2 separate regions of the Homo sapiens genome follow, and region 1 is linked to region 2. The links come from fine-mapping of genetic effects on gene expression. A gene starts in region 2. The other region holds a variant in brackets. All regions are shown on one strand. Distances are from middle to middle.

Evidence for each region.
Region 1: its variant is fine-mapped to the expression of PTK7 in whole blood (TOPMed, PIP 0.95).

What each region holds. Positions count from the first base shown.
Region 1 is chr6:43,139,679-43,142,580 of GRCh38, forward strand. It overlaps PTK7 (protein tyrosine kinase 7 (inactive)), which reads left to right. Exons shown (of 20, transcript NM_002821.5): 11 at 1,990-2,139; 12 at 2,253-2,403; 13 at 2,494-2,621. Among named protein-coding and RNA genes, the nearest start is that of SRF, 30 kb to the right of the region's middle. The variant A/T (reference allele first, on the strand shown) is at 1,528.
Region 2 is chr6:43,075,209-43,078,110 of GRCh38, forward strand. It overlaps PTK7 (protein tyrosine kinase 7 (inactive)), which reads left to right and starts at 1,106. Exons shown (of 20, transcript NM_002821.5): 1 at 1,106-1,359. The coding sequence starts at 1,281. KLC4-AS1 (KLC4 antisense RNA 1) reads right to left here and starts at 1,022. Exons shown (of 2, transcript XR_002956347.1): 1 at 487-1,022; 2 at 1-59. RefSeq lists an enhancer at 241-764 and a silencer at 1,094-1,193.

The sequences.
Region 1 (2,902 bases), 64 kb after region 2:
AGCCAGACACAGAAGAGGTCAGATTATAGCCTTGGACAACATGGAAGACAACTCAAGGCAACAAGTGATTGGATTGGTTCAGACAGTGCTGTAAAGTCCTCTCTTCCCCTTTTCCAAAATAGTTTATCTTTTCCAACATAAAAATTACATGGAGGCCGTGCATAGTGGCTCACGCCTGTAATCCCAACACTTTGGGAAGCCGAGATGGGTGGGTCACTTGAGGCCAGGAGTTTGAGACCAGCCTGGCCAACATGGTGAAACCCCATCTCTACTAAAAATGCAAAAGTTAGCCAGGCGTGGTGGCACATGCTTGCAATCCCAGCTGCTTAGGAGGCTGAAGCAGGAGAATCGCTTGAACCCAGGAGGTGGAGGCTGCAGTGGGCCGAGATCATGCCATTGCACCAGAGTCTGGCTGACAGAGTGAGACTCTGACTCAAAAGAAAAAAGAAACAAAAGTTACATGGGCTCCTTTACAAAATACTGGAAGAGGCCGGGCGTGGTGGCTCACGCCTGTAATCCCAGCACTGTGGGAAGCTGAGGTGGGTGGATCACGAGGTCATGAGATAGAGACCATCCTGGCTAACATAGAGTAGTGAAACCTCGTCTCTACTGAAAATACAAAAAATTAGCCAGGGGTGGCGGCACGCATCTGTAGTGCCAGCTACTCGGGAGGCTGAGGTAGGAGAATTGTTTGAACCCAGGAGGCGGAGGTGGCAGTGAGCCGAGATTGTGCCACTGCACTTCAGCCTGGGTGGCAGAGCGAGACTCCATCTCAAAAAAAAAAAAAAAAATATTGGGAGAAAAAATGTACAGTCCTGCCGTTTATCATCTTTGGGTGTATGTCTTCTTTTTCTGTGCATATGTTTTTCTTTTTTTACCTAGCAGTTTTATTGTATATATAGTTTCAGTTATTAAATTTACATGATTGGCTGAGTGTGGTAGCTCATGCCTGTAATCCCAGCACTTTGGGAGGCCGAGGTGGGAGGATCGCTTGAGCCCAGGAGTTCAAGACCAACCTGGGCAATACAGGGAGACCCTGTCTGTACAAAAAATTTAAAAATTAGCCAGGCATGGTGGTGCATGCCTGTAGACATGCTTATTGTAGAATTAGACAATACAGATAACTATGTAGTTTTTAAAAATATTTTTTAAAATTATTTATTTTTATTTTTTTTGTAACGGTGTAATTTTATACCCTTTTTTACTTACCATTGTCAAGCATTTCCCCACATCTTTATACACTCTTCATGAATATTTGTTTTGATGATCCTAATAATATTTCAACAATTGGATTCACTGTAATTTACTTAACTGTTCCTTAAATGTTGGAGATTTGGGTTGTTAACCAGCCACCCACCCACCCCCTTTTTTTTCATTGCTGCAATAAACATCTTTAAGCCAAAGTTTTTTTCTGGATTTAGGTTTATTTCCTTTGGGAAAGATTCCCAGAATTGGGATAATTATGCACGAAAGGGGGTATGAACATTTTTATAGCCCTTGATGTGAGTTGCCAAATTATTTTTTAAA[A/T]GGTTGGACCAATTTTGACATTTCCACCTAGAGTGAGAGAGTACAGTTGTAGATTCTGAGGAGGAAGTAGGCTCCCTCTGCTCAGGTCTGGGGGAACTTTCTGGGAGAGGTGAGGCTTAAAATGGATCTACAGCCTGGGATGGTAAAGAGCGGGAATGGGCTCTAGGAGGGAGAAGTGATGGGCAGCGGAGTAGGAACAGGGCCGATCTGGGCCCAAACAGAGTCCGGTTTGGCAGACGTGGAATGTCACACAGGGCAGTAGGAGGAAGAGGTGAGACTGAAGAATTGGAAGAGGGGTAAATAACGGAGGGGCTTCTAACACTTGGCTCAGGAGTTTGGACTTTGCCTGTGGGTGGTCAGGAGCGATGGTGTGTTTTTGAGTAGAGGTGAGGGACTGAAGGCATTGCCAGCTGTCTGTGTAACCCTGATCCTTCCCATAATTTCCCTTTGTTACCCCTGCAGATGGGAGCAGCCTCCCAGAGTGGGTGACAGACAACGCTGGGACCCTGCATTTTGCCCGGGTGACTCGAGATGACGCTGGCAACTACACTTGCATTGCCTCCAACGGGCCGCAGGGCCAGATTCGTGCCCATGTCCAGCTCACTGTGGCAGGTGCGACCGTGGCAGGGCCCTGGGGCTGGGAGGGCCCTCTGGGGTAGCACCGTGTACCCTGCCAGCCCCTTGGCTTACCCCTCCCTGCGCCTCGCTGGTCTCTTTTCTTCCAGTTTTTATCACCTTCAAAGTGGAACCAGAGCGTACGACTGTGTACCAGGGCCACACAGCCCTACTGCAGTGCGAGGCCCAGGGGGACCCCAAGCCGCTGATTCAGTGGAAAGGCAAGGACCGCATCCTGGACCCCACCAAGCTGGGACCCAGGTAGGGCCACCTCTCTCCCACACCCGTCCCTCCTCTCCTGCAGCCCCCCTCCCTGCGAGCTGGCCAGCACTATGGCTTCTCCCCCGACAGGATGCACATCTTCCAGAATGGCTCCCTGGTGATCCATGACGTGGCCCCTGAGGACTCAGGCCGCTACACCTGCATTGCAGGCAACAGCTGCAACATCAAGCACACGGAGGCCCCCCTCTATGTCGTGGGTATGGGCTGGGGAGGGTTATGCTGCACAGGAAGTGGTGGGCCCAGACGTTTGTCACCTTGTACTCAGCCCCTGTGTACAGAACATGGCACAGAAGCCATTTTTGTGGCAGCGGTGGGGATTCGGCCGTCTCACCATGCTGCTGCACAGTCTTAGAGTCCTTGCTCAGAGCCGGGCTGTCGTTTATTTAACATCCAACGGTCGGTGTGTGTGTGTGTGTGTTGTGGGGGAGTGGGGGGGTGTTCTCTTCCTACAATGCTGCCTCCCAGGTTCCTGCAGCAG
Region 2 (2,902 bases):
TCTCTCCTCTCTTCCTCCCGTTGTTTGTATCATCTCCAGCAGGGCCTGTAGGAAGGCATCTGGGGGATGGGGAAGAAGGAGGCTCACAACCCAAGGAGAAGGTGCTGTGGACTGGGTTGTCAGGGACATGTGGTGGCCATGTGGCAGGACCCTGGAGTCCTGGCGCCACTTCTCCTGGCTGTGAGGCCCTCTGTGGCTGCCATTCCTCCTCCCAGCTGCTTGGGGGAAGGGAGGTCTAAACAGGCCTGGGGGGCCCTCCGGAACCAGAGGGGAGACAAGGCACTATCCATCCCCTCTCAGCATATCTTGGAGGCCTGAGCAGCAGCTGGGGCCCATCTTCTAAAGCTTGACTCCTCCTGACCCGCCTCCTACACCCCTTGCTGCTTTCACAACAAAGAAAGAATGTGGGGGTGGTGGCGCTGGGGGTGGGGGTGCCTGGAACAAGGGTTGTGCTGGGCCTCCCCACAGCTGGAGACTTGGCCATACCCTGACACAGCCCAGACTGCCTGGAGATGGACTTGGGATGAATTTGTCAGTTAGCAGACTTCAGCCTGGCTTTCAGAGCCCAGCGTGTTTCTACCTTTGGGTTCAGATTGGTCTACAGCCAAACCAGACCCCAGTCATGCACACTTCAGCCCCTCTCCGGGCTACACAGCATCTTCAGGTTACTTGGGGACATTAAGGACACCCTGCTGTTCTGGGTCTGCCGTTAAGATTTTGGGTTGCTGAAGAGTTGGCGGGGCCCGCCTCTTCCCCTGCCCCCACCTGGAGAATTCTGGGGGAACTGTTGGCCAGAGCCTCCAGGTATGCCCAGAATGGACCATTCTCCCCAGGGTCCACGGAATCGCACAAGTCACTTAGGTTCTCCCGGATCCCTGCAGAGTCGGTGGTGGGTACAGCAAATACTCAGGTCCCCTGCACTTCCCTGAGCCTTGCTCTCTCTATTCTCCATCCCTCTCCAGACCCCTCCCCCTACTGAGCTCCTCCCCGCCTCGGCGAGGAGGGGGCGTCGAGGGGGCGGGGCGCCGTGCGGGGGCCGGAGGGGAGGGGGCGTCGTGGGGCGGGGCTTGGCGGCGGCGGCGGCGGCGCGCGGGGACTCGGAGGTACTGGGCGCGCGCGGCTCCGGCTCGGGACGCCTCGGGACGCCTCGGGGTCGGGCTCCGGCTGCGGCTGCTGCTGCGGCGCCCGCGCTCCGGTGCGCTCCGCCTCCTGTGCCCGCCGCGGAGCGCAGTCTGCGCGCCCGCCGTGCGCCCTCAGCTCCTTTTCCTGAGCCCGCCGCGATGGGAGCTGCGCGGGGATCCCCGGCCAGACCCCGCCGGTTGCCTCTGCTCAGCGTCCTGCTGCTGCCGCTGCTGGGCGGTGAGTACCCGAGAGTTGGGGGCACAGAGCTTGGGAAGCGCGGGAGTCCCGTGGGCAAAAGGCTGCGCCCGGGGCGGTGGGTTTGGGCGGCTGGAACGGCCCTGGAGTAGTGGAGAGGCTCGCTGGGGGTGCAGGCTTGCGGCGGAAGGGCGCAAGGAGCCCGGGTGTCGGGAGGCTGGCGAAGCCTCCAGGGACGCGGTCAGGGTACCCCTCCCACTCGCGCCGCGGGGACGCATTTCCAGCCTCCCTGAGTTTTTCTGGTCTGAGCCGAGAGTTTGCTCGAGAACTGCCGAGAGTTGCTGGCTCTCGGGCCCAGATGGGGAGTTTCTTGTCGGGGGAGAAAAGACCATCCGCACCCACCGTGGGGAGCGCGATGGAGAAAAAGGAATTCCCCACCCCACCCGGCAGGGTCGGCCCAGGTAAGAGTTGCTGGTTTGGGGCCCGATGCCGGACAGACCTGCGGCGCGCAAAGCGCGGAGCTTTGTTACCTACGCCGACCCGACGTTCCCGGCTTCCCTCCTCCGAGTTCCTGGGCAAAGCTGAGACCCCAGATGGCCCTGCGGGTGAGGGCGGAAGAAGGGAAGAGTTAGGGGCCGCCCCCATCCATGGCCTCTAGCTACTGGTCTGGAACCCTGCGCCCACTCCGTGCCAGGGCCGAATCCGGGGATCCGAGGGTCCCAGGCTGTCGCGGTGACTAATGTGTGAAGGCCGCTGCCAAAATCGGGCATGGCCTGGCTGCAAAGGTGCGGACGGGGTTTGTTCTGCTCCTTCCTGGATTTCCATCCTGACTGTCCTCACAGAGGAAAGGAAGTATTTCTAAGGGAAGAAAGGCAAAAAGAGCTCATTCTGGCTTTTCTTGGGGGGGGGCCTTAGCATTTTAACGAGGGTGTGGCCCTCATCACCAGGGCAGACAGCACCGCCCCCCCAACTCCCGCAGCTTTTATTTCCTGGCTTGGTCACACCTAAGAGTCATCACTGAGGTGTTGAAGTGCCTTACAGGAAAGCACCAAGCCACCCGCACATCCCAAATAGCCCGGACTGGAAATAAAGCCCCCGACCCTCCACAACACTCCTTGGTGGTCCTCGAAGCAGCTTTCTCTTGGGGAGCTCTGTCGAGGAGACCTGTCCTAGGTGATCACCTTCCATCTCCTTTGAAGGTGGCAATGGGAAGGGCATGGGTAAGGAATTGCCTTTCTAATATCTTTCTGGCCTGCCAGCTGTGGAGGGGTTTTGGTGCTGGTGGAATCAACATCTCCCCTGCCCCCAGTTGTAAAAGGAGAGGTAAATGTAACCCAGGAAAGAGACCAATCTCCAGGGATTTGGAGGAGGTGTTTCTGGAGTTGCCCCGTTTTTCTTGTGATGTGTGTGGTGGTTATTGCTCGTGGCAGAATCCACATCTGCTCCCAGAGGAAGTATGGAAGTTTTTTTGCACAGCCAGGATGGGGGCCCAGCCATCTGGGCGAGCAGCCCAAGCTCACAGGCCCCCTGGCTGTCCTGGTTGGGTTTTGGTGTGTGGGTCTGCCCAATGAGGCTGCCTTCACTG